Regions from separate parts of the Homo sapiens genome. Here region 2 is linked to region 1. Evidence: fine-mapped expression QTL. A gene starts in region 1. The other region holds a variant in brackets. All regions are shown on one strand. Distances are from middle to middle.

Evidence for each region. PIP is the estimated chance that this variant, and not a neighbour inherited with it, causes the effect.
Region 2: its variant is fine-mapped to the expression of CFAP43 in thyroid (GTEx, PIP 0.93).

The regions. Positions count from the first base shown.
Region 1 is chr10:104,229,118-104,234,495 of GRCh38, reverse strand. CFAP43 (cilia and flagella associated protein 43) reads left to right here and starts at 2,132. Exons shown (of 38, transcript NM_025145.7): 1 at 2,132-2,314; 2 at 3,653-3,906. The coding sequence starts at 2,250. RefSeq lists an enhancer at 2,011-2,305.
Region 2 is chr10:104,187,417-104,192,794 of GRCh38, reverse strand. CFAP43 (cilia and flagella associated protein 43) reads left to right here. Exons shown (of 38, transcript NM_025145.7): 12 at 493-596; 13 at 4,385-4,525; 14 at 5,303-5,378. Among named protein-coding and RNA genes, the nearest start is that of MIR609, 29 kb to the left of the region's middle. The variant C/A (reference allele first, on the strand shown) is at 2,864.

The DNA.
Region 1 (5,378 bases):
CAACTCTAAGAAAAACCTGTTGTGCTTTTATTCCAATGTTTAATTTATCGAAAAACTGAATAATACCCCTGTAACTTTAGCCAGTATGTTCACATACAGAATCTCTTACAATTAATTTTTATAAACCTTCCACAACTTATTTAAACCTTTAGTTTTTTTTTTTACTTAAAGCAATCCTTTAACACTTAAATGTAGGCAGAGAAAAATCCACATTCCCATTACTTCTTATAATCTTTCACCAAAAACACATTTTACTTTCTTTACACACCTTGCATGTAAAACTGTTTCTTTAGTAGTTTTAATTACATGTTATAATGTTAACTTTTTGCAACTTTTATTTTTGGTGAAAACCTTGGTAAGTAAGAGATTTTAATTGTGTACTAGGTGTGGAGCCTAGCCTAGGACACAACAGGCAGAAGTGCAGATAACAGCTGACTCTCTAGCATAGCTAGAGGGCATAGCTAACTCCACATGTCCACAGGGCTCACCCTTACTTAAGCAGGCAAGTTGTACAGTAAGAGTCATAGGGCATTGTATGAAGCATTTAGGAGGCCTAACAATCCGTGAATTGTACAACATTTCTTGCATAAAATCACTTTCATAAATCCTTTCACAACTTACACAGACCATCTGAGACCATGTGGATATCTAGCCCAACTCCCTGGATCCCACCAGTCTCTAAGTTCCAAGAAGGAAGAAACTTTATTTGTTTTTCTATTTTTTCCAAGTGACTAGCACATGCATGAATGCATGCGGGATGCTCTGTAAATATTTGTGAAAGAAATGGAGAGAAGAAAGCAAGACAGGAAGGAAAGACCTAAAGAAAGGAAGGGAAGGGTAGAGAAGGGAAGACGACTGAAGGGAAAGGAAGAAGGGTAAGGGAGGGAGTCTAAGGGAAGGTATGGGAGAGAAGAAGGAATGACAAGCTGCCGACCATTCAATCAGGTTACTTCCAGAGCTGTCTGCTTCCCTGAGGAAGCAAGAGGGTACATTTCAAAGTGTTATATGGTACTTAAGGGCTTGGAGCTCTAAATTAGCTAGACCTGCGTTTAAGTCCCACTCAGGGCTGGGCAAGGTGGCTCACGCCTGTAATCGCAGCACTCTGGGAGGCCAAGGCGGGCGAATCACTTGAGGTCAAGAATTTGAAACCAGCCTGGTCATCATGGTGAAAACCCGTCTCTACTAAAAATACAAAAAATTAGCTGGGCATGGTAGCACGTGCCTGTAATCTCAGCTACTTGGGAGGCTGAGGCAGGAGAATCGCTTGAACCCAGGAGATGGAGGTTGCAGTGAGCCAAGATCAAGCCACTGCCCTCCAGCCTGGGCAACGGAGTGAGACCCTATCTCAAAAATAAATAAATAAATAATATAAATAAATAAAGTCCCACTCAACTTTGTAGCCATGGACAAATTATGTGCTTCTCTTTTCCTCACGTTACTTATCTGTAAAATGGGGCTGATGGGAGATGTGAAGACGTTGCAACAATGTTTGGCACAGTCAGCACTCTAAATGAAAGTCTGTTTAGAAATTTATTGATTTTTAAAAATAATTATTTATTTAGAGACAGGTCTCGCTCTGTCGCCCAGGCTGGAGTGCTGTGGCGTCATCCCAGCTCACCGCAGCCTTGAACTCCTGGGCTCAAGCGATCCTCCCACTTCAGTCTCCCAAGTAGCTGGGACTACAGGCGTGCACCACCATGCCCGGCTGCTTTTTAAATTTTTTTGTAGAGATGCGGCACGGGCGCGGCAGGTTTCGCTATGTCTTCCAGGCTGGTCTTCAACTCCTAGCCTCAAGCGATCCTCCCGCTCTGACCTTCGAAAGCGCGGAGATTGTAGGCATGAGTCTTACTTGCAATTATTGGCCCGGACCTGGGGAAATTTGTTAAAATGCAGATTCTGATTGAGTAGATCTGGTGTGGGAGCCAAGTTTCTGCATTTATAACAAGCTTCCCAGGTAGCACCAATGTTGCTGGTAAACAGACCACACTTTGAACAGCAAGGGGCCCGCCCCTCGCTTGGCTTGCCGCTCACCCATTGGCCGAGAGCGGCAGACCTTCCACCAATCTGCTCGGCTCAGAAGGGAGCGGGCCAAAGCGCAGAGCCAATGGGCGCGGGGCTTACGGTCTCCGGGATACGGGTGTACACAGCAGCGGCGTCGCGGCCCGCAGCCCCGCGGCGGCGGAAAGGTAACCGACCCGCCCTGGGGTGCTGCGTGCGCTGCCTGCTCCCGCCTGAGGAAAACACTGCCCATGGCGCAAGGCCGGGAGCGCGACGAAGGCCCCCACTCCGCCGGCGGCGCGTCCTTGTCCGTGAGGTGCGGTGTTCACGGCCCCGCGACCGATCTGGGTCTCGCGGAACCTCCTGCCCCAAGTCCCCTCCTCCCTCCTCTCCCTCCGGTTCCTTAGGGCGGCTTTCCCCGCAGCTTCGACCTCTTCCCCTCTGCCCCCAGTGCCTTCCCTCAGCCTCCCTCCCCGTGTGACCTCCCCTGTCCGCTCCCCATCCCCTTGTTCCTTGACCCCGTCCCCAGTTGTCTTTCCCACTCCTTATTCTGCGACCCTGACCCTCCGTCTCTTACCCAGCAACGTCCCCTGCACCCTTCATCTCTTCCTTCTAGCTCAGGATTCCCGCTAGTGATCCGGGTCTTCTGATCACATCCCCCTCCCCCTCCACCTGGCGACAGCCCGGATCCCGTCCTTGCTACCTTTGGTGATTTTCCCCAAAGTTAGGTCCCTGAATCCTTTCCTTCTAACTCCTATCCACTAGCTTTGGATTTATTTGCATTTATAGTAGCCTTTGAAAAGCATCAAGCACTGCGCAGATATAGGTGGCATTTTTTCCCCTACATTCTAGAGTGTTCCTCCCAGCCCCCACCTCCACTCTATACAGCATCCCCTGCTAGTCCTGGACACTCTAATGTCTCGAGGTTTCTCACCAAACCAGTGTCCTTCACTTGCCTTTTCCACCATCTTCAAGCATACCTTTAATATTTAAATAAAAATAGAATCTCCTTCATCTCCTCTCCTTTCTAGCATACACCTAGCACGCACTCCTTACTTGAGAGTATGTTCTTTTTGTGTGCTAGCCTTTCATTCACGTCGACTTCATTCCTTTTATTTTCTACGTTTATCTGTATTTTTAAATCTAAAATATGGCCACATACTCTTCATCTGTGTAAATAAGCAATTTTCCTACTCTGCTAACAACCACAAAGCAGGCTGTCCTATGCAAAGTTGTTTTTTAAAGTTTATTTAAAAAAATCAAACTAATTATAAAAGAATGGCCCAGGATGCCACTGTGTTGAGATCAAGCTCTTTTCTCTGTTATTTTCACTTTTTGTCTTCCAAGTATAGAAGACCCCAGAAGTCCTTCTGAGACTTTCTCAGGTTTGGTCAGAGAGTTTCCTTTGCTGAAAAAGTTATCTGAAGAAGGCCTGGGAGACCTACGGAACTTTAGGTCTACATTTAAATTTCTATAATTCATTGACTCAAATGGATCTCACAGCCAGCATGTGTGTTCTTTTATCTTAGAAATTGGGGGCAGAAAGGACATGAAAATAGAAATGTTTCAAAGATTTTGATGACCCTTTGCTTTGTTAAAAAAAAAAAAGTATTTGAAATGTATTATATTGATGTTGACATATCTTTTCCCAAAGATGGGTGCAAGGATTCCCTAAGCAGAATGTTCATTTTGTCAACGACAACACCATTTGCTACCCTTGTGGGAATTATGTAATATTTATTAATATTGAAACCAAGAAAAAGACTGTACTGCAGTGTAGTAATGGAATTGTGGGCGTCATGGCAACTAACATCCCCTGTGAAGTTGTGGCTTTTTCTGACCGGAAGCTAAAACCTCTCATCTACGTATACAGCTTTCCAGGATTGACCAGAAGGACCAAATTGAAAGGTATTCTAGAGAACCCTTCCTCTGCCCATAATTGAAGGATTTTGTTTAAAGAGTTGACTAAATCTATTATAAGTGAAGATTTATTTTTTGAAAGGTTTTTTTTGTTTGTTTTTTGTGTTTGTTTTGAGATGGAGTTTTGCCCTGTTGCCTAGGCTGGAGTGCAGTGGTGCGATCTTGGCTCACTGCAATCTCTGCCTCCCAGGTTCAAGTGATTCTCCTGCCTCAGCCTCCTGAGTAGCTGGGATTACAGGTGCGCACCACCACGCCCAGCTAATTTTTGTATTTTTAGTAGAGATGGGGTTTCACCATGTTGGTCAGGCTGTTCTCCAACTCCTGACCTAGTGATCCGCCTGCCTCACCCTCCCAAAGTGCTGAGATTACAGGCATGAGCCACCACGCCTGGCCCCATTTTTTTTTTTAATATACATTTTTAAAGAAGGAATCAAGCTGATCACTGAGGATTTAAATTATGTTAGCTAGAGCCTTGCTGTTCAAAGTGTGGTCTGTTTACCAGCAACATTGGTGCTACCTGGGAAGCTTGTTATAAATGCAGAAACTTGGCTCCCACATCAGAGCTACTCAATCAGAATCTGCATTTTAACAAAATTCCCAGGTGATTCATATGCACATTAAACTTTGAGAAGCACTGGGCTAGAAGACTATTGCCTTTTTCAGAGCAATGACTTTTTTTTCTTTCCTAATATTTGTTGAAAATCCAGGTGAATTGATGTTTGTATAGCTTCTAAAGTCAAGTCTCTGAGCCTCAATTTCCTCATTCATGAAATAGGGATAAAGATGGTGTCTAATGTGAAGGCTGCGGTGATGATGATAGATGAAAATATATAATATGCTGTATGTGTATGTATGCCAAGTGCTCAATGTTGCCTACCATTTGAATTATTAGTGTTTATTTTATTTATTTTATTTTAACAGAGTCTGGCTCTATCACCCAGGCTGGAGTGCAGTGGCATGATCTTGGCTCACTGCAGCCTCCACCTCCTGGGTTCAAGTGATTCTCCTGCCTTGGCCTCCCAGGTAGCTGGGATTACAGGTGTGCGCCACCATGCTCGGCTTTTTTTTTTTTTTTTTTATGTTTTTGGCAGAGGATGGGGTTTTACCATGTTGGCCAGGCTGGTCTCGAACTCCTGGCCTCAAGTGATCCACCCACCTCCGCCTCCCAAAGTGCTGGGATTACAGGCGTGAGCCACTGTGCCCGGCCTAATGACTCTTTCTTAGATACAGCTGACCCACACTGAGCTGCTGCACGTCTGCTGGAGCCACCAGCTAATGATTCCTTCATTTAACACCCCATGGGCAGAAAGCTCATGCTTGAGGCTGGACTTAGCTCTGTAGTCTTAAGGGTCAAATAAGTGTTTGGATGAAGTCAGGGAACTTCACTATAATTTATAATACTTTGTTTGTGGTGAAATTTGCATTCTCAACAGTTTAAGACAATTTTCAAAACATAACCC
Region 2 (5,378 bases), 42 kb after region 1:
CACTGTCATTTTTTTGTGCCTTTCCTTTCTCAGATCCTCTTATTCTAATTTACATCTTCCCACTTTTTCTAATTTGATAAAGTTGTAGACATGTTTCACTACATTCTTCCTCCCACTGCCAGGTACCAGACACAGGGTAATGAAATGTCACACCCACCACTAATTTGAGAATTGCTTATTTGCGCTTGAAACATCAAGAAAGCTCTACCGACAGACATGTTTCATTCACTTATGATGAACCAACTGCCCATCTTTACTGAATCTTCTTGACTGTATTTATTAAAGTTGCAATTTGGAAATATCATTGGCCTAAAGTACAATGATTATATCCACATGTAATCACTCCACTTTAATAAGGTCAGAGAATATTAAAAATTGCAAACCGTAAAAATGACTGGCTTTGAACATATCTCTGTGGCCATTCAATAAACTTGTTCACCATCTAGCTGGTGAAACAATTGGGATTTGATCATCAGATTTCTTCTTTTCTAGTTATGATCAGCAAGGAATATTTCTGTTAGTTGGAACAGCAGAAGGAAAAGTCTTTATTATCAATGCCAACTCCTCAAGCTCATTTCAGATTATTGGATTCACAGGTACAACATAGAATGCTGATTAATTTAAAATATTGATTATTTCAAAGAATTTAAGGTTATGAAAATGGACTTTTCATATTGAATATTGAAACAATTATTTGTGGCATATTTTCTGAAAGAGAAACCTTTAAATAACTAAAGTTACTTAGGAGAATTCTCACATTATATTTTGATGTATTTGGAATATTAGAGTTATCTGCTTGGTACATAGTTGGTGCTAAATAAATTTTCTTGAATCAATTATTAAATACATTAATGAAATGGCTGAACATTTCTAATATTAACATACAGAGAAGTTGGGTTGATTTCTCTTGAAAATATTTTTTAATATTTTATCTCTAATGAAGAATTTTCTCTTTATTTTCTCTCTGGCTTTACATGCCAACTGTATATGTGTTTCCCCCCCCCCACACACACAATTTTTTTTAAAATTCTCCTTAAAAAAAATTTTTTTTTTGCTCCTCACACTTTGCCAAGTCCCACTCCTAAGTTTTTAAATTTGTTTATCATTGACTTATAAAAATTAGTGAGTGCCTACAAGGTGCAAAATGCCAAACCTAGGCCTTGTAGGGGGATGAAAATATTAAGGAGACAATTTAGTAGAGGAGGAAAATGCAGAATGGTGTGTAGGCTCAGATACTGTGTAGGCTCAGATACAGCAGCAATTCATTCTGCCAAGTGTGAGGAGAGGAGTGGAGGTGAAGGTGGGCACTGGTCAGGGGGTGCGGAGGATTGGAGGAGTTTTCCAAGGGCTTAAAGTAGTGGGTTTGAAGGATTTTCATAGGTGTGGGATAGGACATATTAGTATTCCTGCTCAAAATAATAACCCAAACAAAGGTACTTGGAATGGTAAAAAAGTCTGGTATAACAGGTAAATGGAAGAGTTTACTAGAAGATGACTATGGCAATGAAGTCTGAAAGAGGAAGGACCTTGAATATCATTCCAAAGAGTCTGGAATTGTTCTGTGGTTAATGAGCCATCATCAGTGGTTTCAAGATGGAGCTGGCATGATTTGACTTCGTTTTTAGAGACTGACTCTGATACCAGTGTGAAGGATGGAGTAGAAAGGCAAAAGAATGAAATTAAAAAGATGAGATTGGAAGCTATAATACTAGCCAAGGCAAGAGATGATCATAGTCATAATCATAGCAACAGCCAACACTTATTGAGGAATGCCTGACTATGTGGTAGCCAGTATTCTAAGCCCTCAGCATGTCTCCACCCATTGAATTCTTAGACAACTTTCATGAAATTGATACTACTATTATCTCTCCACATGAGGCAATTGAGGCGAAGCGAGGCTAAGTACTTGTTCAAGGCCATGCATCTAGTTAGTGGCAGAGCCCAGTTAAGGAAGTCCAGTTTCAGGGCGTGTGCTCTTATCCACAATGCACAAACTCATGCTGCAGTTACAGAAAGAGAAAAGAGGGCACAACCACGAGTGATGGAATTGGTAGGACTTGGTATTTGATGCGAAAGGAAGGGATAAGTGATGACTCCAAAATTTCTAGCCTGAATGGTGGAAGTTTGCAATGCCATTAGTTGAAAGTTCTAGAGGTTGAGGAATAGGTTGAGCTGATGAGTTCCATAGGTTTAAAGCCAATAAACTCTTCATTTGGGCATATTTAGCTTAAGTTTGGAAATCGGGATATGTAGTTCAAGGCTTAATGATAGAATTCTGATCTTGAAATCATGGTAGCTGATGAGATGGCTCAACAGAGTGGAAGTAAACCTGGATGCTTAATAAGGCAAAAGAGGTAACTAAATATGCAAATTAGATGGCACTGAGTGTGGTACAGCCTGTGGCTGACCTCAGAGTGGATGTATATCCTGCCTAAATATTCCATTTCATTTATTTTATTTTATTTTCCAGAGTCTTGCTCTGTCACCCAGGCTGGAGTGCAGTGGTGCAATCATAGCTCACTATAGCCTTGAATTCCTAGGCTCAGGCAATACTGCTGCTTCAGCCTCCTGAGTAGCTGGGACTACAGGTTTATGCCCCAAAGCCTGGCTTGTTCTCTGTTTTGTTTTTGTTTCCTTTTTTTTTTTTTTTTTTTTTTTTGAGATGGAGTCTCGCTCTGTCGCCCAGGCTGGAGTGCAGTGGCGTGATCTTGGCTCACTGCAAGCTCTGCCTCCTGAGTAGCTGGGCCTACAGGCGCCCGCCACCGCGCCAGGCTAATTTTTTGTATTTGTTAGTAGAAACGGGGTTTCACCATGTTAGCCAGGATGGTCTCGATCTCCTGACCTCATGATCCGCCCGCCTTGG[C/A]CTCCCAAAGTGCTGGGATTACAGGCGTGAGCCACCACGCCTGGCCTTTTTTTGTTTGTTTGTTTGTTTGTTTTGTTTTGTTTTGTTTTTTAGTAGAGAAAATGTCTCTCTATGTTGCTCAGGCTGGTCTTGATCTCCTGGAGTCAAGCAATCCTCCCACCTCAGCCTCCCAAAGTATTGGGATTACAGACATGAGCCACTGTTCCCTGCCCCATTTTTAATGTATCTGTTTGGCCAGAGGGTGGGATGGAAGAAGCTGGGAATAGAACCCTGGTCCACATTTTATATTGAAGCTGTGGACAGAGGAAGATGAGGCAGTGAAGAAAACTGAGGCTGGGCCAGAGTAATAAGAGAACTGGGAGTCATTCTCTCCAGAAACAGCCTAAAGAAGGAAGGCAGATGAAAGTACAGGCTGACACAGAAGTGTGGGTAGGGAGAGGGCTGAGATAGGCTCTCATATATTTGCCAGTCAGCAGGTGATCCCTGAGAGAGCTACTTCTTTGGAATGAAGAAGGTTAGGGAGGGAATAGAGGTAAGAAAATTAAGTCAGAAAGTGCCAAAACTATTTTAGGAAGTTTGCAGTGGAGAAAAGAGAGTCAGATGTTAACTGTTGTGGGACAGCAGAGTTGGAGGAAGGTTCTTATTTGAAGACAGGGGAGTCATGAGGGCTGAATAAAAGGAACCATAAGGGACACAAGAAGCTAAAAAGAGGTGATTGATAATGTATGGTCTAATAGGAGATTGGAGGAATGGGCTCAAAAATCACAGACAGGGAGGGGTTACATTTTGTTCCTACATCAATGTCAGGAAATGAATGGAGAAAATGGAAACAGACAAGGGGAAAGTGTGAGTCTCAGGATAAGAAAGTTGAGATTGAGTTTATGTAGATGTCCTTGGTCTTCCTTGTTAAGGAAGAGGGAAGGTCATCTGCTGACCGCCTGGGGAAGGGCCTGAGAAAGTGGGCACCTGCAGCACAGTCCCATGAAGAATGGGAGAGTGAATCTGGAACAAATCCAAGGTGGGCTCCAGGCCTGGCACACCTTGTAGAGGTTAGATCAGCTGGCTTTCTAGTGGAGCAAGCTCATAAAGTCACGTTTCCACCACACCCACAGTCCTTGACCACAGATGCAAAGAAGGCCGATGCCTAAGTTTACCCAATCTTAGGATTAGGTAACCTGGCTGGAGTGGACTTGTGGGGACCAGCTCATGCAGATGCTGGTTTGGAGGGATAGGGGGTGGAGATGGTGCACTCTGGGGCCACCCTGGCTGGGAAGGAAACCCAGACAGACTGGGCTGGTTTAAATCTGCCAGTCTAGACATCTAATCAGGAGAATCCCTCATCCATTCATCAAAAATGTCCCTGTAACTTATGTTTAAAGGTCACTTTAAATGTCCAGCAAATAATTTGATTCTAAAGATATAGTGAAGGCAAGTCCATGGATGATATCTTAATTGGAAAGGTAAAAGATCATTTAAACTTATCAATGACCACTTGTGGTGTTGATCTCTGTTTGCTTTCAGAGGTGGCCAAAGACATTTTACAGATATCCACAGTGTCTCTTTTAGAAACAGACATAGTGGAAGTGATGGTGCTTTCCTCGCTTCCAGAAGCAGGGAGAAGCAGGTTGGAGATGTTCACACTGCCTACATTACTGCCACAAGGTAAGGAAAACATAAGCAGCCAGTTCTGCTCCTGAGCCCAGATACATTGTTGTTATTGTTTTTTGGGTTTGTTTTGTTTTTATCTTGGCATGTGAAGAGGTAAAATGGCCACCTTTTGTCTATCTTTACAAAGTAAAACCAACATGCTAAACAGTTTGAAGTGTGGACTTTTCCTCTGGGCTTCCTGACTCATGAGTCTGCTTTATTACCATAGGAAAAGAGATAGGATCAACGGACACATCAAATTGATTTGTTATTTTTGTGATGTCTCTTGTTTTGTAGCTTTGAATAGACAAGGTTAAATTCAGATAGATTACAGTGTAGTTCCCTTCACTGACAAAATTATAAAGACAGTTTTCTGGATAAAAAGGTATGAGAAAATAGATACTCTTTCCTTGTTTTAATGACAAATATATCAGGTTAGCAGTTTTGCAAATATATAATTATAGAGCAGAAGAGAGCCGACAACCTCCAAGTACTTTTATGTTTTTATAAGAATCTCTATACTACCATGGGTTTCTTTTAATATGTCTCTAAGTTAATTGATTAAAAATTAATCAAGGCATTACAGAAATATTTTACCCACTATCAGTCATTTAATACTCAAGTATTTCTAGGGAGACAAGTGTTTTTAAATCATTTTTATCACCTACTAGCTTCCGCAATATTAGTTGAGCATTTAAATTTTATTTTGCTTTTCATAATTGTTCATAATTTTAAAAAAACAAAATTAATTTATGGTACAAGTGATTTCTCTTCTTTTTCCAAATCTAATAGTTTCCACAACCTTTGCTGATGAAAGAGGAAGGCTGAAAGATGAAATCATTCATAAGTACCTGTATGAGTTGGAGCA